Linked DNA regions of Homo sapiens. The protein of the gene in region 3 interacts with the protein of the main gene of each other region in a pairwise test. Each region holds a gene or a part of one and is shown on either strand. Other genes may lie near its edges. The genes, in order: APOL2, UBQLN1, APOC4 and MAIP1.

Region 1 (7,497 bases), on a different chromosome or scaffold from region 3:
ACACTATAAGTAATAATGATAATACCGATTCAGGCCCATCCCAGTTAGGGGCGGCTCCAAAATCACCATTGTTCTTTTCTCACCTTGTGTCTCTGCGCACTCCCCGGCACACCCACTTCCAGCAGCTGGTCTTTGTTTGCAGACTTTATTTTAACAGCTCAGTGGTTCCCGGGCATCCTCCAGCTCTTATACAAAAGCCCCCTCCTCAAAAGCCACTCGCCTCCCTCTTTCCACTTCCCACCTCTGTTTCAGGGTCGAGGCATCCAGATATCTGTCTTCTGGGGCCCCTACGCAGCAAGACTAAAAGGGGGACCCAGTCCTGGGCAGCAGTTCACCAGGGGAGTATGCAGAGGGGCATCTGGACACTTCTTGCTGTAAGGGACGGGGTGACGGGAGGGGGTCTTCCCTTCCCCTTCTTCCTGCTTTGTTCACTCTGTGACACCCTAGGCCAGGGGAGCTGTCTCAACGCCATCTCATGAGCCATGAGAACCAGGAGGACCAGGAGGGAGAAGAGGAGCAGGAGGGCAGACAGAGCTGGGGCCTCGGACCTGCCCAATACTTGTGAGGAGCTGCATCCAGGATCCCATCCTCCTGGGTCATTGTTGGCCTGGCTCCCACCTTTGTCTGGAGCCTCTGCTGGGGGTTGAGGCTGGATACTGCCCCTCAGGCTTGACTAGGACACAGTGTGTACTCCATGGGTGAGCCTGCAGGCTGGTCAATTCCGGTGTCCAACTGAGCGACCTGGAAGAGGAGCCCTCCCTCCCACCTCAGCTCTGAGCCAAGCTCTCCAGATGCAGAGGACAGGGACTCTCAGCAAAGCATCTCCCTCCAAGTGGTTGTGGGGCATCCTCCTTGGGCAGGGAAAGAGGAGTCGAAATGATTTCCTGAGAAATCGTCATTTTCATTTTATTTTTGAGAAACTGTCTTGCTCTGTCACCCAGTCTGGAGTGCTTTGGGGCTATCACAGCTTGCTGTAGCCTAGAGCCCCTGGGCTCAAGTGATCCTTCTGCCTCAGCCTTCCAGGTAGCTGGGACTACAGGCACACGGCACCATGCAGGACTAATTTGTTAATTTTTCATTTCAGAGAGACAGCATCTCCTGTGTTGCCCAAGCTGTCTTGAGCTCCTAGCATCATGTGATTCTCCCGCCTCTGCCTCCCACAGCACTGAATTACAGGCCTCAGCCGTGGCACTGCACCCTTCTGAGGAATCTTCAGTGAAAAGCCACGGTCAAGTTCAAACCCCATAGCAGGGCACACAGGCCCTCTGATGCTCTGGACCCCACCTTCCTCACCGCTCCCTGCCACCACAGTCACCTTAGGTCCAGGCACCCACTGACGCCCTGCTTCGGTGCCTCCTGGAGCCCATCTACTCCTCCCACTCCCATCCCCAGCCTCAGGCCTTCACTCAGCTGCTCCCTCGCCCTGGAATGTCCCCCCCACTGTCCCCACCATGTGCAAGTCACCTGTCCTCAGAGACCCACCCAAAGCTGCCTGGTCCATGCGGCGGCCCCCAACCCTCCCCAGGCTCCCTGAGCACTCTGCTTTCCAGAGGGAGCTCTACCTGTATGTGGCTCTTTGGGCCTCTGTCTCCCCTTTAGACTCTGAACATTCAATGGGGACACTGTTGTGTTCCCAGCTGCACCCCCTACGACTGACCTGGATGCCCTCCGCCCTCCCTGGCACAGCCTGGCTGAAATCCCAGGTGCAGGAGGCATTACTTGAACTAAAAGCAACCAGCCTCTGGATGACATGGCCCAGCTTCAGTTTCACTTTCAGTTGAGAAATTGAATTTAATTTTTCTTTCTATCTTGATGGGCATCTCTTTTTGGTGAAGAACAAATAAGACCATGACTCATATTTCACAGAAATTACCCCCCTGATTTCATGGACTTTTGGCAGCTCTATCAAGTTTTTTAGAGGGGAAAAATCTTAGGCTGGGAGGGGAGGTGACTTGCCCAGAGTCACACAGCTCTTGGAGGGCAGAGGGGAGGCCAACATCTGCCCTTGTGACTCTGATATTGAAGCAAAAATGGGTGATTTTAATAATCCAACAGTGTCCAGGTTTGATTCTGCTTCTACAAACACAGAGACCTAAGCTCTCACTCCTGTAGTTATACTCACAATTCCACAGTGTGGCTTTTGAATCTCATGATTGCAAAGCTGGCATCATGCCACAGGTACCATTCTGCAATGCGACCTTCTCACTCCCCTGTCTCAGCCATGTTTCCCATTAGGGACACAGCACAGCCTGTTTCTTCTCTATCAGCTCAGAGGTCTGAACAGAGGGACAGAGGTGAGGGCCAGAGACGTGAAGTCCTATGATCTGCCTGCTCAGCCTCCTGACACGGGACCCTGGCAAGTCATTCCCCTCCCAGGGCCTCAGTTTCCCCACAGGGCCTGGCACAAGTAGGTGCTCAGACTCAGGGTGAGTGAGACAACCTCTGAGTTCCTTGTGTCTCAAAAGAAATCTGTTGTTCCCATTGGGCTTCAGCAGCAGCACCCTGGGGCCAGCCTGGGTGTGGCCCGGCCACAAGGACATGCCGGGCTCCAGGTCACCTCCCCTCCTCCACCTTCTTTGATTCCTTCAAATTTCCCAAAGAGATGGGCACCCCCAACACCTACCTTTCTTCTGGGGTCAGCTGGCCGTGTCTGAGGGTGTCAGAACCAGAGCTGAGCCCGGGGAGCTTTGTGAACCCATCTAAGCTGTTTTCCCCACCTCTCTCTACAGTTTACCCGCCCAGCAGGAGGGAGGGAGCAATCAGACTCAAGCCTGGGTGCAAATCCCGGCTCTGCCACTGCTTTCCTGTCTGATCTGAACCAGCTACCTAACCTCTCTGAGCTTATCTACAAAAGCTGAATGATCCTTCCCTTATAGAGCTATTGCAAGAATAAGGACATGGGGGTAGATCACACTATCCCCAACTTACCAAGGGATCTTCCTCTGACAGAGACTGAGCAAGATCCAACTGTTCTGAGCTGTGTGGATCCCACGTCCAGCTGTGCATCTGTGTAATAACCAGACACGTCCTCCGGCCTCCCAGATATACCCTGGAATTCGAAAGGGAAAGTGAAAGTCACAACTTCCCAGCAGCTCATGACCAAGCACAGTAAACACGCTGCTCCCCAGCACCACCTGCAGTCCAGGCCCAGCCTCCTTGCTGCTGCACTTAGAGGAGCAGCCGCAGACCAGACATCCGGGTCCCTCTCATCCAACCCACCTGCCTCACATCCTCAGGATTCAAGGTCTGCTGTGTCAGCTGCCCATGTCTCAGGCAGTCAGAACCAGAGTTGAGCCTGGGGAGTTTTTTGAACCCATCTGAGCCGCTTGCCCCCCAACCCCCGCCCCGATCTCTGCAGTTTAAGGGCACAGCAGGTGGGGGAGAGAAGTCAGACTCAAGCCTCAGTGCAATTCCAGGCTCTGCCCCTGTTTTACTGTCTGATCTGAACTAGTTACCTAACCTTTCTGAGCTCAAGAAAGACCTGCCACTGACTGACCGTGGGGCTCTCCAGATTACTCCCCGTCCTTCCGTTCCCCCACATTCCTCAGATGCCTGCCTTACTCCCACACATGCCATCAGCATCAGCACAGTCCCCCACACATGCTGGGTGGATGCTTATTGCATATTTATTGTAATGCTTCTGAGGTTATGTTTTCTGTTATGTTTTTGATATAGAGTCTTGCTCTGTAGCCCAGGCTGGAGAGCAGTGGCACAATCATAGCTACTTCAAGTGGCACAATCAAGCCATCCTCCCATCTCAGCTTCCGAGTAGCTGGGATTACAGGTGCCTGCCACTACACCCAGCTAATTTTTTGTAATTTTAGTAGAGATGGGGTTTCACCATCTTGGCCAGGCTGGTCTTGAACTCCTGACCTCAAGTGATCCACCTGCCTTGGCCTCCCAAAGTGCTGGGATTACAGGTGTGAGCCACGGCGCCCAGCCCATTGTATCCTTCTTGTGACTTTGTGTCTTCATAGCTTAGCTCCTACTAATAAATGAGAACATACAATATTTGGTTTTCCATTCCTGAGTTACTTCACTCAGAATAATGGTGTCCAACTTCATCCAGATTGTTACGGATGCCATTATTCCCTTCCTTTTTACAGCTGAGTAATATTCCATGGCATATACATATATAGGGGTGTGTGTGTGTGTGTGTGTGTGTGTATATACACACACATTTTCTTCATCCACTTGTTGGCTGATGAGCATTTAGGTTGGTTCCATATTTTTTCGGTTGCAAATTATGCAGCTATAAACATGCATGTGCGAGTATCTTTTTTATATAATAACTTTTCTCCTCTGGGTAGATACCCGGTAGTGGGATTACTGGATCAAATGGTATTCTACTTTTAGTTTTTTAAGGAGTTGCCATACTGTTTTCCATAGTGGTTGTACTAGTTTACATTCCCACCACCAGTGTAAAAGTTTTCCCTTGTCACCATATTCACACCATTTTAGCTAGGCTGGTCTTGAACTCCTGACCTCAAGTGATCCACCTGCTTTGGCCTCCCAAAGTGCTGGGATTACAGGTGTGAGCCACTGCACCCTTCTATTCTTCTTTGATTTTTAAATTATGGCCATTCTTGCAGGAGTAAGGTGGCAACTTATTGCAGTTTTAATTTGCATTTCTCTGATAATTAGTGACGTTGAGCACATTTTCATATTTTTTTGGCCATTTCATTTTGTATATCTTCTTTTGAGAATTGTCTATTCATGTCCTTTGCCCACTTTTTGATGGGATTATTTTTTTTTTCTTGCTGATTTGTTTGAGTTCCTTGTAGAAACTGGATATTAGTCCTTTGTCAAATGCACAGTTTGCAAATATTTTCTCCCACTTTGAGGGTTGTCTGTTTTCTCTGCTGATTATTTATTTTGCTGTGCAGAAGCTTTTTACTTTAATTAGGTCCCATCTCTTTATTTTTGTTTTCGTTGCATTTATTTTTGGGTTCTTGGTCCTGAATTCTTTGCCTAAGCCAATGTCTGGAGGAGTTTTTCCGATGTTATCTTCTAGAATTTTTATGGTTTCAGGTTTTAGATTTAAGTCTTTGATCCATCTTGAGTTGATTTTTGTATGAGGATACTGTTTCATTCTTCTACATGTGGCTTGCCAATTATCCTGGCACCATTTGTTGAATAGGGTGTCCTTTCCGCACTATACGTTTTTCTTTGCTTTGTCAAAGACTAGTTAGCTGAAAGTATTTGGCTTTATTTCTGGGTTCTCTATTCTGTTCCCTTGATCTATGTGCCTATTTTTATACCGGTACCATTCTGCCATTATGTACCTTTTTTTTTTTTTTTTTTTTTTTTTTTTGAGATGGAGTCTCTCTCTGTCACCCAAGCTGGAGTGCAGTGGTGCGATCTTGGCTCGCTGCAAGCTCCACCTCCTGGGTTCATGCTATTCTCCTGCCTCAGCCTCCCGAGTAGCTGGGACTACAGGCGCCCACCACCACACCTGGCTAATTTTTTTTTTTTTTTTTTTTTGTATTTTAGTAGAGATGGGGTTTCACTGTGTTAGCCAGGATGGTCTCGATCTCCTGACCTCGTGATCTGCCTGCCTTAGCCTCCCAAGGTGCTGGGATTACAGATGTGAGCCACTGCACCCAGCCCTTGTACCTTTTAAGTGAACCATTTAGCCCATTTTCATTCAATGTTAGTATTGAGATATAAAGTGCTGTTCTATTCATCAGGCAAGTTGTTGCCTAAATACCTTATTTTTTTCATTGTGTTATTGTTTTATAGGCCCTAAGGCTTATAAAACAATATGCTGTAAGGAGGTTCTATTTTGGTGTATTTCGAGGTTTTGTTTCAAGACTTAGAACTCCGTTTAGCATTTCTTGTAGTACTGGCTTGGTAGTGGCGAATTCTTTCAGCATTTGTTTGTCTGAAAAAGACTTTATCTCTCCTTCATTTATGAAGCTTGGTTTTGCTGGATACAAAATTCTTGACTAACAATTATTTTGTTTAAGGAGGCTAACAACAGGACTCCAGTCCCTTCTGGCTTGTATGGTTTCTGCTGATAAATTAGCTGTTAATCTCATAGATTTTCCTTTACAGGTTACCTTATGCTTTTGTCTCACAGCTCTTAAGATTATTTCCTTCTTCTTGACTTTAGATACCCTGATGACATGTGCCTAGGTGAGGATCATTTTGTGATGAATTTCCCAGATGTTCTTTGAACTTCTTGTATCTGGATATCTAGATCTCTAGCAAGGCCAAGGAAGTTTTCCTCAATTATTCCCTCAAATAAGTTTTCCAAACTTTTAGATTTCTCTTCATCCTCAGCAACACCAATTATTCTTAAATTTGGCCATTTAACATAATCTCAAATTTCTTGGAGGCTTTGCTCATTTTTTAAAATTCTTTTTTCTTTGTCTTTGTCTGATTGGGTTAATTTGAAAGCTGTGTCTTCAAGCTCTGAAGTTCTTTCTTCTACTTGTTCTAGTCTATTGTTGAAACTTTCCAGTGCCTTTTGTATTTCTTTCAGTGTGTCTTTCATTTCCAGAAGCTGTGATTGTTTTTTCTTTGTGATATCTATTTCTCTGGAGAATTTTCATCCATATTCTGTATTTTTTAAAATTTCTTTAAGTTGGTTTTCACCTTCCTCTGCTATCTCCTTGAATAGCTTAATAATCAACCTTCTAAATTCTTTATATGGCAATTCAGAGATTTTTTGTTGGCTTGTATCTATTGCTGGGGAGCTAGCAATAGCTTTGGGGGGTGTTATAGAAATATGTTTTGTCATATTACCAGAATTACTTTTCCGGTTCCTTCTCATTTGGGTAGACTATTTCAGTGGAAAGATCTGAAACTCAACTCCTTCTGTTCAGGTTCTTTTGTCCCACGGGTTATTCCTTGATGTGGTACTCTCCTTCTCCTAGGAATAGGGCTTCCTGAGAGCCAGACTGCAGTGATTGTTATTGCTCTTCTGGGTATAGCCACCCACTGGGGCTATACCAGCCTTTGGGTTGGTGCTGGGGAATGTCTGCAAAGAGTCCTGTGATGTGATCATCTTCTGGTCTCCTAGCCATGGATACCAGCACCTACTCTGGTGTAGGTGACAGGCGAGTGAAGTAGACTCCGTGAGAGTCATTGGTTGTAGTTCTCTTTAGTGTGCTGTTTTCTCCAATGCTGGTTATGCTAGCAGTGAAGCTGTCATGTGGAGAGACTGAGGACCTCTGGTCAGTCAGGATGTTGCGGGCAGTGGTATTAGCTCTTGTCTTCTCCTTCCTGGGAATAGGGTTATTCTGTCATGAGTTGCTGTAATGGCCTGAGTTGGTTGGTCTCCAGCCAGGAAGTGGCACTTTCAAGAGAGCACCAGCTGCGGTAGTAGAAGGGAGATACAAGCTTGCCCTAGGTTGACCAGGGTAAGTATTCTAGTTTCTCAGGTGATTGGCAGGGCCATAAAGCTCCCACGAGTTTATGTCTTTTGTGTTCAGCTACCAGGATAAGTAGAGAAATACCATCAGGTGGAGGGCAGGGTTAGCTGGGTCTGAG
Region 2 (7,023 bases), on a different chromosome or scaffold from region 3:
TCCCAGCTACTCCAGAGGCTAAGGTGGGAGGATTGCTGCAGCCCAGGAGGTGCAGGTCGCAGTGAGCTGTGATTGCATCCAGCCTGGGCACTTTGTCAAAAGGGAAAGGGAAAGAAAAAAAAAAAAGGGAAAGGCAAAGAGGGGAAAGAGGAAAAAGGGGAAAGGGGGAAGGGGAAGAGGAAAGGGAAAAGGGAAAGGGGAAGAGGAAGGAGGAAAAGGAAAGGGGAAAGGAGAAAGGGAAAGAAAAAAGAAACCCAGAAAAGAAAACAGAAAGCACCTAACAGACCTTGAGACATTAAGAAGTTTGGGGACAACCTAATAAAACAGGTTTAAACTGGCGATCATCTTTATATAATGGCACATTATTAGTAAAACCAATGTATGTTTGTAGATGCAACCACATTATTAGGGGGTCCATATTCTTTAGCCATATTTACGAGATATATATATATGTAACACAAGCTACCGCAGGAGGTGGTGTCATGGGTGGAGTTAAGGTAGTTAGGACTTTTTTCCAGTCAAAAGACAGACTAGAATACAGCTGCCCTGGAGGTACTTGGGATAATCAAGTTTCCATTCCTCCCTAAGAACTTTTTTAAAGCAAAATCTATTTCAAATGATTTTCAAATAGGAACAAAAAAAATGCATTTTTAAAGGCAATTTCTAAAAAATAAGACTTTAGGTTGTAGCATGTCTTCTCTACAACCGTAACAACGTTTCCTTTAGTGTCTCAGCACCAAAGTCAACAATTTTTGTAATGCCTGTTTTCTTACTCAATATCCTTAAGACTGTATTTTTCATTAATCTAAACACCTAAGAACTACTGCTTTCCTTTTTTCTCCCTTTTTCCTTCTTTTTGGAAATTTCTAAATTTCCAACATTAAGGAATACAAAACTTGAATGGAAAAGAACTGATACCTGAGGATTTACTCCAGCAAGAGCCTGCAGCATCTGCTGAATAAACTGCTGATGTCCAGGTTCAGTGGTTCCTGCTGTGGGACTTGTGTTTTCACTAGGTGTGGCGTTAGATCCATTAGTTCCCGAAGAGCCTCCAGTGCTTCCTAATGCCCCCAAGCCAGGAGTAAACCTACAGAAAGCACAAATAGGAAATATCCTAAGGTCCTGCAAAACCAGAAGCCAGTCCGTAAATCAGTTACATTTTAATATAAGCTAAGCCATCTTCTTAAAATAAGCCCTTTTGGCCTGGTGCAGTGGCTCATTCTGGGAGACCGATGATCCCAGCAGCCCAGGAATTTGAGATCAGCTTAGGCAACATTGTTGAGACTTCATCTCTACAAAAAATAAAAACAAAATTAGCTGGGTGTGCTGGTGCACACCTGTAGTATCAGTTACTTGGCAGGCTGAGGTAAGAGGATTGCTTTAGCCCAGGAGGTAGAGGCTGAAGTGAGCTGAGATCGCGCCACTGCACTCCAGTCTGCTCGATGGAGTGAGACTATCTCTAAAAGGAATTTAAAAAATAATAATAATCATTTTTAACTTTGAAAACCCTGACTTAAAAACAATCATAGCCAGGCACTGTGTCCCAACTACTGGGGAGGCTGAGGTGGGAGGATCACCTGAGCTTAGAAGTTCAAGTTCAGCCAGGGTAAAAGAGCAAAAACCGATCTCTTAATAAATAAATAAGTAAATAAATAAATAAAAACGGTGGGGGAGAACCAGGTGCTATGGCTCATGTCTCTGATCCCACTTTGGGAGGCCAAATCTCTTGAGCCCAGAAGTTTGAGACCAGCCTGGATAACATGGCAAAGCTCCATCTCTAAAAACAGTAACAACAACAAATTATATATATAAATTAGCTAGGTGTGGTGGTGCACACCTGTAGTCCCAGCTACTTGGGAGGCTGAGGTGAGAGAATCCCTTGAGCCCGAGAGGTCGAGGCTGCAGTGAGCCACAACTGCGCCCCCACACTCATAGCCTAGGCGAAGGGCGAGACCCTGTATCCCACCAAAAAAAAAAAAAAAAAAAAAAAGGCAGGCAGAATAATACTAAATCTGAAATTCTCAGAGAAAGTAACCATTATACACTTTCATTATCTTCCCCAAATAAGCCTACCCTGGGATGAGGCCCGGGGCTTCCGTTGCTAATGTCTGTAAACCCTGCTGAATCTGTAACAAGGCCTGCATTGCTCTAGGGTTTGACATTGCTGATAGTGTATCAGGATTCTGCATCTAAGGAAGAAAGAAAACTAGTGGTTACAAAGGAATTAAAATCAGTGAACGTAAATTTTTAAATCTTTTCTCTGTTATGCTTCTGGAGAAAATCTAAAACCTTACTCCTGGACACTGGTAATCCATAATTTCTTTCCCAAAATAAACGCAAGTATCTCCTCTTTGACAGCAAACCTAGTGTGCAAATTATTACTTGACCTCCTCCTAAGTCCATCATGAAAGCCATTTCCATAATGGAAGAAAATCAGGAGCTACTTTGGAAGCCACAACTATTCCCCTTCTCCAACAGAAGATAAAGTATTACTTCTAAGACACAACCTCCAAAGGCACAATTCTTACGACGTGGATATGGTAAAAAGCCACATATTCCACCTAACCAAGTGTTATCTGTTACTAATATAACAATTTTACCAGTAAGGTACACTCTAAAACAACAGTTCCAAATTTGACGTTAATACATGTATCCTGAGTTTAGCTTTACTACTTCCAAATATACACCACCTGACTAACCAAAGATAGGCTTACATCATTACAATAGATCAAGGACACCAACCTTGGAAAATGGTTTACAGGTCTGAGAGTCATTTGCATAATACATGAGGCCCTAGAACTACCAGTTTCAAAACACCAAGACTGACTTCTCTTTTGTCGTTTTAAATAATAAAATACCATGGCAATCTCAAGTACTCGTTTATACTATAACCTTCCTTACTTCCTTATATGACAACACTGACTATTTTAATCTTACTAATCCCGAGTTTGAGGAAATGAGATCTACCCCTTGGGGAAAAAAAGCCTTCTACTAATTTGGAAGAAAACCTATAAAATAGAATAGGGTAGCTCTTTCCTGTTACTCAAAATTAGTTAAACCATAAAGCGTAACATGACACAAGGAAGCACTTCAAAGTTAGTACAATGAAAGGAAATGGTTTATGGTATTAACAAAGCATTCAAAATCCTAGGTCCTCAAAAGCAAAAACAAAATGTTCTTTCCTCAGAATGTATGTTTAAGAAACATAAGCAAAAGGTCAGCAGTGAAATGGGACTCAGTGAAGATCAAGCTGAATTCTCTACGAATTGACAGCATTATTGGTCTCTATTCTATGTTTTGCTATCAGCCAGAGAAGAGCAAGGAAAAATGTTTATCATCAAATTTTTTCAAGCAAATCATTACCCAAGATAGCTAACATCTTGTCTTACTCACTTGTTGGAGGAAAGTTGGGAGCTGTTGTCTCATTTGTTCTTGAAGCTGAGGATTTCCAGCAAATAGGGGATTATTCAGCATCATCTATGGGGCAAGTGTTCAAACAATTTTAACTGGAAATATCTGAAACAAGTAATGTACCTTGTTTTATTCTATCTTCCCCCAAGTGCCTCAGCTGGCACTTAAAAGGGAGGAAGGTAGAACATAAATAAAAAAAGGAAAAGGGAAGATACTGTCCACAAGAGGGATCTCCAGAAGAACAAAAACAAAAAAATGAGGCATATTCTCTCTCAATGAGAATGGTGGTTATGATAATGACATGCAATATCCTAAAAAATAAAAGCAATCATTTTCTTAGGCTTTTCCTTGAACAAACGTGAATATATGCCATTGAAAGAAAAATGGGAGTAACTGGCATTCATGAAGATATATTTTCTACTACACTGGCAGAATAAACATAAACATCAATACATGAACTATGTAACATGGCTTGCTTAGAAACCTCAACACACAAGTGGCAGGCACAGAGAAAATCTAGATCTGAAAAGGACCACTACATCTACCTGCCTACTACAAAACAGCTAATATTAGGTCCAAAAAAATAACACCGCAAAACAGCAACCAACTTGCCAGAGAAATGGAGCTGCTAGGTGAAAATCAGTCAGGCCTAGCACCAACAGTCCTCTGGGAAAAGTATTAAAATGATTTAAGACCTAAAAGATGTAAATCCATTTGAGAACACCAAGATTAGCATCTGGATTTCACCTCACTACTACCAGAGATGAGAAAAGTGGCATCTCCTAAACTTCAAATAAACGTTAAGAATTTAAAAATCAGGATCATTATTAGTATGATGTCATATACCTGAAAATAAGATTAAAATACACAAGGAGCATAACCAGAGCTAATAAATTCTTGTAGCTTCAAAAGACACATTTTATATCATTTTCCCCAGGCGGAGTAAAAAGTCAACTAACAAGGATTTACTGATAGCCTATTTATCTATCCAAAGTCTGGGGAGGAAATGATCCTTGCCCTCAAGAAGTTAACCGTATTTAAGAGCAATGTAAATGCTGGTAGAGAAAATTCGCCCCAATTCTTGCAAAGTGATCTTTTAGTTAATTTCAATACAATAACAAAAGCAGATGTCAGACAACCTTTCAGGAACATACAGTATTTATTTCAAAGTGACCAGTAAGTTCACAGTAAGTAAACTCATACAGGCTTAAGGTCAACAAACCTGCTTCTTTATTGGTTCCAAATACTTATCATCAACATATTAACGAGGTTATCACACATATCTTTTGGAATTCACTTCATTTCATCTTAAAAAAGCATGTCATCTTAAACGTATCCTTTCACAGATAATCATCTTATTAGATACTTCTTATAACTTACCTGAGTGCTTATACCACAAGTTTTTACACTCAAGAGTCTTTTTAAATATTTAAAAATCAAAAGAATAGAAAAACCACAAATTTTAATCTGCAGATAACAAGAACATTGTAAAAGTTTCTAAATTATCTGTAATAAAAGACATGCCAATCTAGTACTAGCAACATTTTGTTTTAGAGTAAAAAAATAGTATGTGAGTGCTCAAGTCACTTTACTAAAGTAAGATTATTACAAAATTGCTACGCATGTGCTTGTTAAAGTCAAATTTTAAAAGCAAGATGCACATTCAGTATTAGCCAAATACACACTTAAAATGGCTTATTATGGTAAATTGAAGCATTTAATACTAACAACTCAGTCTGATAAGTTTCATATGCATAAATCAATCTTCCATAAAATGTACCTCCAATATACAGAATCACAGACACAAAAATTCTTCTTAAAATTTGTTATTTCCAATTCCACAAATTTGGTGAGGGCATAAGTTATTACTGAGAATTATACACAAAGATACCTGAATCAATATAGTTTTAGAATTTAGAAAATAAAAACCATTCATTTGACTTAAAGCTTTTAAAATTTAAGGGATGAGATTAACTATAAAGTCTTCCAAATTCCTGACACACTACAGAAGCCATTTTTAACGAACAGCAAATATAAACTACAGATTATCAAGGTTTATTTCACATTCTCCGTGGTTTTTCAAGCCCTGTGGTATGGAACCTAGATAGTACCTAGGCAACTTGAGGGAGAAAGGGTTATCGGACGCAATTATCTCAAAATCTCTAAGGATGAGGCCCCAACCATCGGTACTGTCTATAAAGCTTCCCAAGTGATCCTGAGTGTTCAGCCAGCATTAAGATCCCCAATTTTCTTAGCTGTGGTCTCTTTAGAAACAAATTAGAAAAAGGAATACATTAATAAGGGACCTGTATACGATTTTCAGCAGGGGAATCAATAGTTGAAAGAAGGAGAACATTGTTCTGACAAATTCCCGTCTTTAATAAATGCTATTTTACAACTGCCATTCTGAGCATGACTATTATAATCTGAGTGATCTACTAAATAAAAGTATTTCAAATGTATTAACATTGCTCTTAATTGCTTTCAAGATTTACATTTCATTAAGTAGTTTATCTTCAAAAGAGTGGGCATTCCAGAACTCTGTACTTGTCTCCTAACTCAACATATGTAGAAACAAACTAAACCTGCACTTCTTTCTAGTCAATGAATGGCAGAGATAAAGTTGTTTTAATTACATATGAAGTATTAATTTACTGCAAAGAAACACACGGTCTAAAAAATTGGAGACACAGTTTACTTATTTTTCTAGTGTATTAAGATATCATACACAACACAAATGTGCCAAAATCACAATTACAAGATTAGGTTATTTTAATTCACACTGCACAGTCTTTTTCAATACAATTACAAACTCACCTGTGCAGCAAGGTCAGGATTCTGGCTTAGTGACTGCATCATGCTTCTCATGTAGGGGGCAGACAACATGTTTTGCATCAGTTGTGGGTTTTCAGTTATTTGTTGCAACAAGCTCTGCATTCCTGGTGTGTTGAACATACTAGCTGAAAGTTTGTTTTTAAAAAAGACATATTAAGGAAAAATACTTAAACAAAAGTTAAAGCTTTAAAATATAATATGCACTGTGTTTAATTTCACCAAGTACAAATGATTATACATATTATGTATCAACTGAACTACGAAAGAACTTTAAAACTAAAACATCTCTAAAAGTACATGCCCAACATATACCAGGAAAAGAGGACTGATGAGTTTAAACATTCTGCATTTACAGTAAAATCTTGTCTAATGAAGAGCTAGCTTCTGAAGTCAACTTAAGGCAAAAATTACGTATGGTCAAAATTACTGCTGAAAAATTCCATAAAGTGAAAAGGACTGAGCCAACTTTTCCTCCAAGACTGCAAAGAATTAATTAGAATCATATTCGGCACTTAATATTGCCCACCCTTATGAAAGAAGTAAGCCTTCATGCCCAAGGCAACAAAAGATGTAATGCCTCCACCCATTTTCACTGTGTACTGCCACTCACTGAGTAAAATGGTAGGCACATTTAACATTTGAAACCATAGAGCACAGTGACTCCAAGCAGTATCAGGAGCCTGATTACGTGGGTTCAAATCTAATCTAACCCATGTGATCTTGGGCAAGTTATCTAGCGTCTTCATACTTCAGGTTCCCCATCTGTAAAATGGAGAA
Region 3 (7,119 bases):
CAAGAGGCTGTCTTTGGATTCGAGGAACCAGGCCTTGGTGAGCGGACCCAGGTCCCTCAGGTGGTCGTCATAGTAGGTCTGCATGAAGCCCCGGAAGGTGCTCGGGCTCCTACAGGAGAGAGGACATCACAGTGGAGGCCCCAGCTCTCCCCAGGTGTTCTCTGCCCCATTTATCCGCTCCTCTCTGTGACCTAGGAGTTCCTGCTCTCAGCTCTAACCCTCCACTCCTCCCAGACCTAGGGGTCACAGCCCCACTCCCACCCTTTCCTCCTCCCTGAGACTCAGGGGTCCAGGCCCCAGCCCCTCCTCCCTCAGACCCAGGAGTCCCCTCCCACCACCCAGCCCAGCACACCCTCACCAGAACCATTGCCACCCGTCTCTGGTCCTGTTCACCACTGTCTCCAGCAGCTCCTTCATCCTGCCCCTCACCAGGCTCCAGCGACTCATCTTTAGCTTTGGTGGGGGGCTCAGGGTTCCTTCCTGGGCCTCTGGCTGGCATGCTAGGTGGAACCAGAGGGCAACTTGGGTAGGCTGGGACCCTAGAATCCCCTTCTCCCTTTCCCTCCATGCTCATCCTGTGTCGCTCCCGGTGGCCCAGGGGCAGCCCCCTGCCAGTCCTCTTGCCTCCTGCCTTTACCCTTATGTGTCCCCTGACCGCTAACCCCTCTTTAACCATCAGCCATCTCTTTTTTTTTTTCTTTTTTCTTTTTTTTTATGAGACAGAGTCAGTCTCTTGCTCTGTTGCCCAGGGTGGAGTGCAGTGTCATGATCTCGTCTCATTGCAACCTCCACCTCCTGGATTCAGGCAATTTTCCTGCCTCAGCCTCCCGAGTAGCAGGGATTACAGGCATCTGCCATCATGCCCGGCTAATTTTTGTATTTTTAGAAGAGATGGGGTTTTGCCATGTTGGGGCCTCGAACTCCTGACCTCAAGTGATCCACCCACCTCGGGCTCCCAAAATGCTGGGATTACAGATGTGAGCCACCCCGTCCGGCTGGGCCATCTCTTCACCTTGTGTCAGTAGTCCCTCCTGTCACCCTGTCTGCCTGTGGTTCCCCTCTAATGGCCTCTCTAATTGCCATCCTCTGATGCCTCCCTTCACCACCTGATTTTGCTGCCCAGGAACTACCCCCTTCTCCCTTCGTTCTCCTGTGACCCCCACCCTGTCTGAGCTACCTCTGTGGACAGTGGAGGGAGAGCAGGAGGTGACTTTCTGCCCCCAGGGGCAGACATTGGCTTAGCCTTGCTGTCAGTTCCTCTTTCCGGGCCAGACCTTCTACCCACGCATCTGGACAAAGCCTCGCCTACAGAGACCAGCCGTCACGCGGGGGCCACATGTAGCTAGCTGTGTGCCTTGGCCGGTGACTTATCCTGTCTCCCCAGGACTGTTTCTCCTTTTGTAGAACGGGGTAATAATATCTACCTCAGGGTTATCGTGAGAATTAAGAGTTACTACATACGATGCACATGGAATGGTGCCTTGCACATTGTCTACATACGTGTTAAATTTTTTTTTTTTTTCAGACGGAGTCTCGCTCTGTCACCCAGGTTGGAATGCAGTGGCGCGATCTCGGCTCACTGCAACCTCTGCCTCCCGGGTTCAAGTGATTCTCCGGCCTCAGCCTCCCGAGTAGCTGGGACTACAGGCGCATGCCACCATGCATGGCTAATTTTTTGTATTTTTAGTAGAGATGGGTTTTTACCCATCTGTTAGCCAGGATGATCTCAAATCTCCTGACCTTGCGATCCACCCGCCTCGGCCTCCGAAAGTGCTGGGATTACAGGCATGAGCCACCGTGCCTGGCCCTGTATTAAAAATTTAAATTTCTACTGGATAATGCTGATCTAGAATATGATCCCATTTTAACATAAAGTACATGGCCGGGCGTGGTGGCTCATGCCTGTAATCCCAGCACTTTGGGAGGCCAAGGCGGGCGGATCACCTGAGGTCAGGATTTCAAGACCAGCCTGGGCAACATGGCAAAACCCTGTCTCTACCAAAAATATAAAAAAATTAGCCAGGCATTGGCCAGGCGCAGTGGCTCACGCCTATAATCCTAGCACTTTGGAAGGCCGAGGCAGGCGGATCACGAGGTCAGGATATGGAGACCATCCTGGCTAACACGGCGAAACCCCGTCTCTAGTAAAAATACAAAAAATTAGCCAGGCGTGGTGGTGGGCTCCTGTAGTCCCAGCTACTCGGGAGGCTGAGGCAGGAGAATGGCGTGAACCCGGGAGGCGGACGTTGCAGTGAGCCAAGATCACGCCACTGCACTCCAGCCTGGGTAACAGAGCGAGACTCCGTCTCAAAAAAAAAAAATTAGCCAGGCATGGTGGCGTGTGTCTGTAGTCCCAAATACTCTGAAGACTGAGGCAGGAGAATCCCTTGAAACGGGTAGGCGGATGATGCAGTGAGCCAAGATCGCACCACTGCTACCACTGCACTCCAGCCTGGGTGACAGAGTGAGACTCCGTCTCAAAAAAAAAAAAAAAAATGCATATGCAAAACACAGACGTACACACCAGCACACACTCACCCCCTCACACATGTCCACACACTCAAATATTTTGCACACACATACCCCACAGAGAGACAGGTGCACACAAATACACATATGCACACAGACATGCACTTTTTTACCACGACTGCATACTCCCACTTCCACGCACGCACGTGCACACACACAGATGATCCCAGTTTGTACCAATGTGACATTCACACTTCACTCTCAGCCACCGACACACACACTCCCCGACACGCACATGCATACGCACGCCATGAAACGCACACACTCCGTACTCATGTCTCACGTGGCTACAGAGCCACAGGACACACAGCCACACTCACACCCACCAGGTGTGGGCCCCACATCCCTCCACCCACTTCTTCTCACCCCCAATGCAGGCCAGGACCAGCACGCAGAGGCACAGGGCAGGCAGGGCCTGGAGCCTGTTTCTGAGGAGGGACATTTCTGGGGGTTCCGTGCCTCTGTCCCTCTGTGCTCAACTCTGCGGGCCGGGGGAGGGGAGGCTGCACAGAGCAGGGCCCTCCCCCGGCCACCTCCCCGCTTGGCAGAGACTTCAGAGAGCAGGGCCCAGGTGACAGTGGCAATCAGAGGTCATGCCTCTGTGGGCCTCCCTCCTTCTCACCCTCCCACACAGTGCCCTGAGAGAAGACAGAGGCTCTTGAGCCTCCTGCACTGAGGCAGGTTCAAATCCTGTCTCCACCTCCCATGACAGCCTCATTTGCTGGCCTCAGTTTCCTCCTCCATAAAGTGGGAGGCACAGTACATATTTCAGTATATTACTTGAACAAATACAAAGAAAGGCGCAGTGGCTCACGCCTGTAATCCCAGCACTTTGGGAGGCCGAGGTGGGCAGATCATATGAGGCCAGGAGTTTGAGACCAACCTGGCCAACATGGTGAAAAACCCTGTCCCTACTAAAAATACAAAAATTAGCCAGAAGTAGTGATGCGTGCCTGTAATCCCAGCTACTTGGGAGGCTGAGGCAGGAGAATGGCTTGAACCCGGGAAGTGAAGGCTGCAGTGAGCCGCGATCACACCACTGCACTCCAGCCTGGGTGACAGAGCAAGACTCTGTCTTGAAACAAAACAAAACAAAAAATGAAGAAAGCTCTTACCGTGGAGACTGGCAATATAGGTGCTCAAAGATCATTGCTGTTGGCCAGGCGCGGTGGCTCATGCCTGTAACCCCAACACTTTGGGAGGCCGAGGCAGGCGGATCACGAGGTCAGGAGATTGAGACCATCTTGGCTAACACGGTGAAACCCCATCTCTACTAAAAATATGAAAAATTAGCCAGGCGTGGTGGCAGGCGCCTGTAGTCCTAGCTACTCGGGAGGCTGAGGCAGGAGAATGGCGTGAACCTGGGAGGTGGAGCTTGCATTGAGCCGAGATCGCGCCACTGCAGTCCAGCCTGGGCGAAAGAGCAAGACTCCGTCTCAGAAAAAAAAAAAAGATCATTGCTGTTATTATTATCTTGTGTCTAATTTCTCCTAGTCACTGGGCTGCAGGGCCAGGCTTGTGGTAGGGCCTCAATAGGGCCCAAGGGTTGATGAGAGGAAATAGCAACACAGTCTCATGTCTCCAGCCTCTGTTTCTTCCTAGGTGGGCTCGAGCCCGATCACTTCCAAGCATTCCTTGAGTTCTCAATTCCAACTCTTTCTCCTCTGGGTGACTCTGGCTTCAGATGGACCTGGGCTTCGAATCCCTCACTTCTTCACCGTGTGACCTGGGCAAATACGTTTTCTTTTCTGGGGCTCAGTTTGTTCAACTGTAACACGGGGTTGATAGGGAGCACCTGCCTCCCAGTGTCCTCATGCAGGACGGCTGAGGCCTATGCAGGAGAGCTGCAGGTGCACATAGTAGGAGGTCATCAACATCAGGCCCAGGGCCAGGGCGGTGGCTCCCACCTGTAATCCCAGCACTTTGGGAGGCCGAGGCAGGCGGCTCACTTGAGGTCAGGAGTTCAAGACCAGCCTGGCCAACGTAGTGAAACCCCGTCTCTACTAAAAATACAAAAATTAGCCGGGTGTGGTGGAGCGAGACCTTGTCTCAAAAACAATAACAACAACAAAAACCAACAAAAAACCCACATCAGGCTCGGTCCCAGTGCCAGAAATAGAGCATTTTTCTCCTGAAGGACCCAGCTGCACCCCAGGGCACATGGCTCAGGGGACTATGGACTGGATTCTTTTTTTTTTTTTTGAGACAGAGTCTGGCTCTGTCGCCCAGGCTGGAGTGCTGTGGCGCGATCTCGGCTCACTGCAAGCTCCGCCTCCCAGGTTCACGCCATTCTCCTGCCTCAGCCTCCCGAGTAGCTGGGACTACAGGCACCCGCCACCACGCCCAGCTAATTTTTTGTATTTTTAGTAGAGACGGGGTTTCACCGTGTTAGCCAGGATGGTCTCGATCTCCTGACCTCGTGATCCGCCCGCCTCGGCCTCCCAAAGTGCTGGGATTACAGGCTTGAGCCACTGCGCCTGGCCTGGACTGGATTCTTTTGTCTACGCTTGCCAGACGAAATAGAGGAGGCCCAATTACATTTGAATTTCAAATCAACAGTGCATGACGTTTTAGTATAAATATGTCCCATGAAATATTTCAGAATTATACCAAAAAGTTTTTTTTGCTATTAATCTGAAATTCAAATGTAACTGAGCATCCTGTATTTTTACATGGCAAATCTGCAAACGCAACCTTGGCCACAACCTGAACAACTGTGCAGGACTGTCTTGACCCAGATGTCTGCCTTGGCAGAATCCTGTCCATCCCAGAGGCCCCAGCGTGAGCACAGTAGGTGCGCAACAGATGTCCCCTGGAATTCCTCTGTAGCAATCATCAGCAGATTGAAAACACCCAGAGTTTCTGTTTGGGATGACGAAGACATCCTGCAAATAGTGGGGATGGTTGCACAACAGTGTGAATGTACTTAATGCCACTGAACTGTACACCTAAAAATGGCTGCAATGGTTAAGTTTTTTTTTTTTTTTTTTTTTTTTTGAGGCAGAGTCTCACTCCGTCACCCAGGATAGAGTGCAATGGTGTGATCTTGGCTCACTGCAACCTCTGCCTCCCGGGTTCCAGCGATTCTCCTGCTTCAGCCTCCCGCGTAGCTGGGATTACAGGTGTGCGGCAACCACACCCGGCTAATTTTTTGTATGTATGTATGTATTTGAGACATAGTTTCGCTCTTGTTGCCCAGGCTGGAGTGCAATGGTGCGATCTTGACTCACTGCAACCTCCGCCTCCCGGGTTCAAGCGATTCTCCGGCCTCAGCCTCCTTAGTAGCTGGAATTATAAGCGCCTGCCACCATGCCCAGCTAATTTTTTGTATTTTTAGTAGAGACGGGGTTTCACAATGTTGGCCAGGTTGGTCTTGAACTCCTGACCTCAGGTGATCCACCTGCCTTGGCCTCTCAAAGTGCTGGGATTACAGGCGTGAGCCACCATGGCTGGCTCATTTTTTTGTATTTTTAAAGAGACAGGTTTTCACCATGTTGGCCAGGGTGGTCTCAAACTCCTGACCTCTCAGGTGATCCATCCACCTCAGCCTCCCAAAGTGCTGGGATTGCAGGCATGAGCCACTGCGCCTGGCTGCCCAGCTAATATTTTTATTTTTTGTAGAAACACAGTTTTGCCAAGTTGCCCAGACTGGTCTTGAACTCCTGGGTTCAAGTAATCCTCCCACCTCAACCTCCCAGAGTGTTGAGATTACAGGCGTGAGCCACCACACCCGGCCATGTTGTTTATATTTTACCACAATTATAAAAAAACAAAAACAGCCAGGTACTGTGGCAGGGGCTTGTAGCCCCAGCTACTCAGAAAGCTGTGGTAGAAGGATTCCTTGAGCCCAGGAGTTTGAGAGTCCAGCCTGGGCAACATAGTAAGACCCCGTCTCTTAAAAAAAAAAAAAAAAAGCTGGGCACGGTGGCTCACGCCTGTAATCCCATCACTTTGGGAGGCCAAGGCGGGCGGATCACGAGGTCAGGAGTTCGAGACCAGCCTGACCAACATGGTGAAACCCCCGTCTCTACTAAAAATACCAAAAAAAAAAAAAAAGTTAGCTGGGCATCGTGGTGGGCACCTGTAATCTCAGCTACTCAGGAGGCTGAGGCAGGAGAATTGCTTGAACCTGGAAGGTGGAGGTTGCAGTGAGCCGAGATCGCGCCACTGCACTCCAGCCTGGGCGACAGTGCGAGACTCAGTCTCAAAAAAAAAAAAAAAAACAGGCCGGGCGCGGTGGCTCACGCCTGTAATCCCAGCACTTTGGGAGGCCGAGGCGGGCGGATCACGAGGTCAGGAGATCGAGACCATCCCGGCTAAAACGGTGAAACCCCGTCTCTACTAAAAATACAAAAAAATTAGCCGGTCATAGTGGCGGGCGCCTGTAGTCCCAGCTACTTGGGAGGCTGAGGCAGGAGAATGGCGTGAACCCGGGAGGCGGAGCTTGCAGTGAGCCGAGATCCCGCCACTGCACTCCAGCCTGGGCGACAAAGCGAGACTCCGTCTCAAAAAAAAAAAAAAAAAACAACAAAAAACAAGGGCCAGCATGGTGGCTCGTGCCTGTAATCCCTGGTGGCAGGATCACCTGAG
Region 4 (7,531 bases), on a different chromosome or scaffold from region 3:
GAATTTTGACAGGGATAAGAACAGGATGACTTGGGAGCATACAGAAGAGCCTTCTAACCCAATCTGGGAGGATCAGAGAGGGCTTCCTAAAGGAAGAAACATCTAAGCTGAAATCTAGGCTGCCAGAGGATGCACAGGCATGTCAGATATGGCATGTCAGAGAATACTGCCTAACTGTTATAGGATGAATTGTGCTCTCCTTCCCCGAAAATTTATGCTGAAGCTCTAACCCCCAGAACCTTGAAATGTGACTATATTTGGAGATAAAGCCTTAAAGAGATGATTAAGTTAAATGAGACCATCAGGGTGGGCCAAAATCCAATCTGACTGGCATCCTTATAAGAGGAGCAAATGTGGAGTAAGAGCCACCAGGAGCACGCATGCACAGGGAGGACCATGCAAGGACACAGCAAGAAGACGGCCATCTGTAAGCTGAGAGAGGCCTCAGGAGAAAACAACCCCTCCGACACCTTGATACTGAAATTCAGGTTGTTTGCTTTATATAAGCAACAATGCTTACAGGCTGGCTGATGAATGGGGTGGAAATACTGCTTAATAGCAAGGAAGGAGGTGAAAATAGCTAACAGCTGGAGGACCACTAGGACTGGAGTGACCCCAAAAATGCTGCATGCTCCTCTGTGTGTTCAGAGGAAACAAGTACTGAGGCCTGATGCCTGCCCATGGTGGGGAGATGATTTCCATTCCTTACTGAAACATAAATGAACTGGTACCATCATATGTGTTATGAGGTGGACAAGCTCATATATCATCAGTGGGCATTGTACAGAACAGTAGGATCAATACAACTTACCACTGCATGGACAAAAGACTTTGAGAACTGACAAGAGCAGAGGTTTATCAATTATAATGCTGAGTTAAGCATCTTAATCAAGTTTGTTCTTTGACTTTTTTTATATAAATATATATAGTAGTCAAGAGTTGACTCAGAGAAGCAGGCAGCAGGAGTTAATACTGACACTTATTAAACAAAGTTGAAAACATTTGATTTACAACTGATTGGTCTTATAAATACAAATGGCCATGATTATGGAAAGAATCTGAAATAAATTTGGAGTAAAATATCAATACCAGTATACAACCAATACTGTAAAATGATTACACCAATAGCATGGTTTTAAGGCATATGGAGGTATGAAGCGGGAAATAAACTTTCTGACTTCTATTGTGGTTTTTTTGTTTGTTTTTGTTTTTTGAGACGGAGTCTCGCTCTGTCACCCAGGCTGGAGTGCAGTGGCGCAATCTTGGTTCACTGCAACCTCCACCTCCCGGGTTCATGCAATTCTCCTGCCTCAGCCTCCAGAGTAGGTGGGACTACAGGGGCTCGCCACGCCTAATTTTTGTATTTTTAGAAGAGACACTGTTTCACCATATTGGCCAGGCTGGTCTCGAACTCCTGACCTTGTGATCCACCTGCCTCGGCCTCCCAAAGTACTGGGATTACAGGCGTGAGCCGCCATGCCTGGCCGACTTCTATTGTTATCAGCAGTTCTGCAATGTTTGGGAACGATACAATCTGTAAAGGAGTCCAAAAAAAAAAAAAAAAAGCATGTACCCACAAAATCTACAAATAATCTCAGGACCCAAGTGACCATATGTCACAAGGGTAAGGCAAGGTATAATCAGCCATTCAGAAACAGGTACGTAACTAACAAAGTCAGGGATAAGAATCTCTAAAGGCTAAATATTTTCTGTGTGCAGGGTGCTGTGCACTTAGCCACCAGGCAGTCTCAGCAAATCCTTTGAAAGGGTAAAATTGCTCATCTCCAGTTTAATCTTTACGGAGTATGGGGTGGTGTATTGGTCGGCTCTGTCTAATAGCTGGCAGGAAGTTCTGCTCTTCTACCCAAGGTGACATTACAGCACTTTGGAAATGTTATCTCAATTATTCTTCAATCTTACCCATTTATTAATGTATTCAGCAAACATTCATGGAGTGCCTACTATGTGCCAGGCATTGTCTTGCCCACTTTGTAAATTTGAAAATTATGTTCAGACAAGATGAGCCATATAGCTTTTTCTTTCTGAGACAGGGCCTGGCTCTGTATCCCAGGCTGGAGTGCAATGGCACGATCACAGCTCACTACAACGTCCAACTCCTGGGTTCAAGCGATCCTCCCCTTCAGCCTCCCAAGTAGCTGAGACTACAGGCGTGTACCACCATTCCCGGCCCAGAAGCTTACTTTAAGTCAAGCAATGGCTGGAAGGCTCTATGTCTGGGCCACTAATCACGTTTGATCACTTGTATCCCAGTGAAGAAAACTCACTGCTAAGCACTTCTGCGAGCAATAGTTGAACTCATTAGAGACGGATAGGTCAATCAGGGAAATAAACAAACCTGCTTCGCTCCCTCGGAGAACTCTGTGATGCTGAACTCTTTGTCGAAATAGGCCCAGATAAGGAAGGCCTTAATTCGAGTCCTAACCCAGTTGATGGGGTTGGAGAATCCCAGGACGATCATCTTGGTTTTCTGGTGCTGCTGGGGCTTCTCCTCCGTGCTGTAGCTGCGCTGAGGGCAGGCAGGGAAAGAAGCGAAGGCTGCGGGGAGTCCCGGGCTGCTGAGCACTGGCCACCGGGAGCCCTGGGCAGGTAGCGCCGAGGCTGCCAAGGCCCTAGCGCTTCGTGGAAATAACGCCGCTCCCAAGCCGAGGCGACAGCGGCAGAAGTAGCAAAGTGTGGCCGACGGCAGCCTCACCTCGGCCACAGCAGGAGTCCGGAGTCGGACGGCCCCGCAGGGCAGCGACCGAGAGTGCAGGAACTGGGGTAGCAAACGAGCGGCCAGCGCCATTTTTATGACCCTTCACACCGGTGCCTGCCGGTGCTGTATGGAAAGGAAGTCGGTGGGAAACCGCCTCAGCGGTGTCGGAGAAAGAGACTGGAGAGCAAAGTGGACCTGTTGCTGCAGCCTCTGGTGAGTCGGCCCCGTCCCCGCTCTCCAGCACGCAGCCCAGGCCGAGGCCCTTCGGCAACCCGCCCCGCGCTCGGACCCAGCCACTCTGGAGTCTGCCGGCCTCGCGGACCTTTTCTCTGTCGCTCGTGTTTCCGGGCGGATGGCGCTGAGGAACGCTTTAGAGCCGAAGTTCCGAAGACCTGGAAGAGGGCAGGCGTGAGCAACCATGGCCGGGCAGCACCTCCCGGTACCCCGGCTGGAGGGCGTTTCTCGGGAGCAGTTCATGCAGCACCTCTACCCACAGGTGAGGCCCTCGCGCGGGGCAGAACCTCGAGAAACCAGCGAGAGACACGTCTTTACCTTTCGGACAGCTGGGAACTGGTTTTTAGAGACCCAGGGTGTGGGAAAGAGGCGCAGGACGGCAGCAGATCACTGGTTGGCCCTTAGACCAAGGGAAAGGTGCACGGGGGACGCCGACTGGCTCCTCTATTGAAATTTCCGGAGAAAGTCCCATGTTTCTGGGGAGCAAGATGATGGCGGAGAGCTGAGTGCGAGAGGTATTTTGCCTAAACTCTTTACTCCGCATCTGTCAGTCTGCTCCGAATTAATGGATTTGAAGGCACAACTTTTCACTCCACTGAGCCAAAAAGGAAAGCAATGGGATTCCCCCGGAAAACTCCTACTCGTCTTGAATTCTAACTTACTTAGGTTCTAGTTCCGACATTGGAGTCTTTTATACCTGTAGTTAGAACCTTAGGTCTTTAAAAGAAAACTCATAGAGAAATATTAGGGAAACAAAAAGTGCTTTTACTTGCAGTGCTTTTCAAGGGAGTCCAGACCTAAGAAAAACAAGGTATTAAAAGGAAAAATCCACAGGATTACAGTAAGTCAGTTTATGGTAGGAAAAATACCCAGCAATTTTCTTACCTGATATTTACATTTATAAGGGTGGTCATAGAATTACAGTTCTGGGGCCGGGCGCGGTGGCTCACGCCTGTAATCCCAGCACTTTGCGAGGCCGAGGCGGACGGATCACCGGAGGTCAGGAGTTCAAGACCAGCCAGTAGAAATCCCATCTCTACTAAAAATACAAAATTAGCCGGGCATGGTGGTGGCCCATACCTGTAATCCCAGCTACTCGGGAGGCTGAGGCAGGAGAATCGCTTGAACCCGGGAGGCGGAGGTTGCAGTGAGCCGAGATCGCGCCACTGCACTCCAGCCTGGGCAACAAGAGCTAAACTCGGTCTCAAACAAACAAACAAAACTACAATTCTGAGTGTTACAAAAGTCGGATGGGCTGGGCGCCGTGGTTCATGCCAGTAATCCTAACATTTTGGGAGGCCCAGGTCGGTGGATCACTTGAGGTCAGGAGTTCAAGACCAGCCTGGCCAATATGGTGAATCCCCGTCTGTACAAAAAATACAAAAATTAGCCGGGCGTGGTGGCGCACGCCTGTATTCCCAGCTACTCTGGAGGCTGAGGTCGGAGGATCTGCTTGAGCCCGGGAGGTCGAGGCTGCAGTGATCCATGATCCTGCCACTGCTCCAGCATGGGCGAGAGGGTGAGACCCTAGCTTAAAAAAAAAAAAGGCGGGGTTGGGGGGATGCGGGAGGAATGAAGTTTTTCTTTTGATAGCAACCTACGGGAGAGGATTCAAGCCTTTATTAGTTTGGAGACTTGTACTAGATGGGTTGTTCTTGCTCTCCCTGTCCTTAGACACCCCCTATCTCAGAATGTGCTAGACGTAAGTTGCCTAAAGGGCAGTGTTGTGAAGATTAGGGTATGTGGAAGTGCTTTGTAAGAGTCATAGCAAAAGGTATTTTGTAATTTAATCTCTTCAGACAAGACATACAGCACAAAGCATCATTACATTTTAAAAAGTCGAAAATTACAAACAACTTTCTCTGGCCATGGGCAGTAAAACTAGAAATTAATAACAAAATTGGAAAAAAAGACCTTTCTATCTGGAAACACTAAAAAGTATGAGGGGGCATAGTGCTATGAGTTTTTTGTTAAACATTTTCTAATAACTCCATAATTAACACTGTATATTGTACAGGTACATGAATAGATAGACCAAGGGAATAGAATAGAAAGTGCAGAAATACCTATTCCTATGGAAATTTAGTGTATAATAAGCATGACATTTCAAAAATCAATAAGGCACAAAATGACTTTTTAAAAAATAGACTGTTTTTTCGAGGCTTTATAGGTTCACAGCACAATTGACCAAAGGTACAGAGATTTCTCATGTCCTTTCTGCCCTGACACATGGATAGCCTCCTCCATGATCAACATCCCCTCATTAGAGTGGTATATTTGTTACAATTGATAAACCTACATTGGCACATCATTTTCTTTTTCTTTTTTTTTGAAATGGAGTTTTGCTCTTATCGCCCAGGCTGGAGTACAGTGGCACAGTCTCGGCTCACGTTAACCTCTGCCTTCAGGGTTCAAGCGATTCTCCTGCCTCAGCCTCCTGAGTAGCCAGGACTACAGGCACCCGCCCCGACGTCCGGCTAATTTTTGTATTTTTTAGTAGAGGCGGAGTTTCGCCATGTTGGCCAGGCTGGTCTCAAACTCCTGACCTCAGGTGATCCGCCCATCTCAGCTTCCCAAAGTGCTGGGATTACAGGCGTGAGCCACCGCGCCCAGCCTGGCACATCATTTTCACCCAAAATTCATAGTTTATATTAGGGTATACTATTGATATTGTACATTCTATGGGTTTGGGCAAATTTATAATGAAATGAATCCACCATTATGGTATTATACAGAGGAGTTTCACTTAGAAAATGATAAAATTCGGTTTATATCTCACACTGTACACAAGAATAAACTCCAAGTGGATCAGAAAAATGTAAAGAAATGAAACTACACAAGTTGTGAGTACACTCGGCAATACAAAACAAAATGAAGCTACACAAGTGCTAGTAGAAAATATGGGTAAATTCCCCTATAATCTAGGTCTATGGAAGGCATTTCTAGCTATGACTCAAAATTCAGGTGTAATATTAGATTAAAATTTGACTGCATGAAACATTTGTATGCCAGAAACACTGTAAGCAAATTTGAAAGACAAATACAAAGTGGGAGAAAATATTTGCAACATTTATCTCATATAAAGGACAGTAAAAGCCCTTGTATGGAAAGAACTTTCAAAAGGGGGTAAAAGGCTGAAAATCTGGTAGAAAAATGAGCAAACGATTGAGGGGGGAAAAAACATTAAAATGGCCTTTAAACTAGGAAGTTTAAGTTTACTCATAAGAGAAATAAAGCTACACTGAGATACAACTTCTTATATATCATATTGGCAAAAATTTAAAAAGCTCTGGTAATACTCTCTTGGTGATGCCCTGAAGAAACTGGCATACTCAAATTTTATACCAAATGGTACAACTCTGTTGGCATATCTAACTATGTTCACTTTATGACCCAGTAATTCCTCATTTAGGAATTTATTCTGGAGATATACCTCCAAAAATGTGTAAATATTTACGTAGTGTTACTGTACTTGCAAATTATTGGAAATAACCTAAATGCTTATGCAGGCGAGAATAATTGAATAAATTATGGCCCATTTACACTGAGGTATACTAAGATGTAAAAAAGAATAAAGGCGATATCTGAACTGATAAGTGGTGATTTCTAGGATATATTTATGATTTTTTTTTTTTTTTGAGACGGAGTCTTGCTCTGTCACCCAGGCTGGAGTGCAGTGGCACGATCTCAGCTCACTGCAAGCTCCGTCTCCCGGGTTCATGCCATTCTCCTGCCTCAGCCTCCTGAGTAGCTGGGACTACAGGTGCCCGCCACCACACCCGGCTAATTTTTTTGTATTTTTAGTAGAGATGGGGTTTCACTGTGTTAGCCAGGATGGTCTCGATCTCCTGACTTTGTGATCCGCCTGCCTCGGCCTCCCAAAGTGCTGGGATTACAAGCGTGAGCCACTGCACCCAGCCATATATTTATGAATTTTTTAAAAAGCACACAACAGAAGAAAATATATGGTAAGCTACTATTTATGTAAAAAACAAGGGGAAGAGATAATGAAATATATGTTTTTGATCACTTTGCAAAAAAGAAAGGAATAAGCCAAAAATTAATGAGATCAGTTATGCATAGGGGATGTGTGAGTATGAAATGGAAGAATGTGGATGGGGTGACTTTTGTATAGTTTTGATTTGGGGAATCACATGGATGTTTTACATTCTAAAGTCATAATAATAAAATCAACAAGGATGAAAAATTATTTTTTAAAAGACCCTAATATAGAATATAAAAAGTAACACATGAATCTGTTTAAGTGGGAGAGGGAGAAGTTACCCAAGTCACTTTTTTTAAACACAATACTTTAATTATATGTCCTCAATCTAAGACACAAAAAACTGAAAACAAACTGAATTCTAGTTAGTACAGTAAGTCCTCATTTAACGTTCTCAGTAGGTTCTTGGAAGCTGCAACTTTAAGGGAAATGACCTATAATGAAACCAGTTTTACCACAGGCTAATTGATACAAACAAGAGTTAAGTTCCAGTGGCATATTTCTGGTCACAAAAATATCACCAAACTTGTAAATAAAGACCCAAAACATTTCTAATCTTAAACATTGAAATAAACATG

Evidence for each region.
Region 1: the proteins of APOC4 (region 3) and APOL2 interact in binary tests that used the Homo sapiens proteins (3 or more experiments, as listed by UniProt).
Region 2: the proteins of APOC4 (region 3) and UBQLN1 interact in binary tests that used the Homo sapiens proteins (3 or more experiments, as listed by UniProt).
Region 4: the proteins of APOC4 (region 3) and MAIP1 interact in binary tests that used the Homo sapiens proteins (3 or more experiments, as listed by UniProt).

What each region holds. Positions count from the first base shown.
Region 1 is NC_000022.11:36,236,513-36,244,009, forward strand, and holds the start of APOL2 (apolipoprotein L2), read right to left. Parts: upstream 3,016-7,497; 5' UTR 2,929-3,015; exon of another isoform or gene 2,624-2,928; intron 337-2,623; exon of another isoform or gene 84-336; intron 1-83.
Region 2 is NC_000009.12:83,662,957-83,669,979, forward strand, and holds part of UBQLN1 (ubiquilin-1), read right to left. Parts: intron 6,372-7,023; coding exon 6,229-6,371; intron 5,676-6,228; coding exon of another isoform or gene 5,574-5,675; exon of another isoform or gene 4,552-5,573; intron 3,478-4,551; coding exon 3,394-3,477; intron 2,190-3,393; coding exon 2,074-2,189; intron 1,088-2,073; coding exon 919-1,087; intron 1-918. UniProt on the Homo sapiens protein: Plays an important role in the regulation of different protein degradation mechanisms and pathways including ubiquitin-proteasome system (UPS), autophagy and endoplasmic reticulum-associated protein degradation (ERAD) pathway.
Region 3 is NC_000019.10:44,938,130-44,945,248, reverse strand, and holds the start of APOC4 (apolipoprotein C-IV precursor), read right to left. Parts: upstream 3,013-7,119; 5' UTR 2,972-3,012; coding exon 2,896-2,971; intron 501-2,895; coding exon 359-500; intron 110-358; coding exon 1-109. UniProt on the Homo sapiens protein: May participate in lipoprotein metabolism.
Region 4 is NC_000002.12:199,951,074-199,958,604, reverse strand, and holds the start of MAIP1 (m-AAA protease-interacting protein 1, mitochondrial isoform 1 precursor), read right to left. Parts: upstream 3,024-7,531; 5' UTR 2,807-3,023; coding exon 2,357-2,806; intron 1-2,356. Other genes in the region: TYW5 (tRNA wybutosine-synthesizing protein 5), read left to right, coding at 3,135-3,212. UniProt on the Homo sapiens protein: Promotes sorting of SMDT1/EMRE in mitochondria by ensuring its maturation.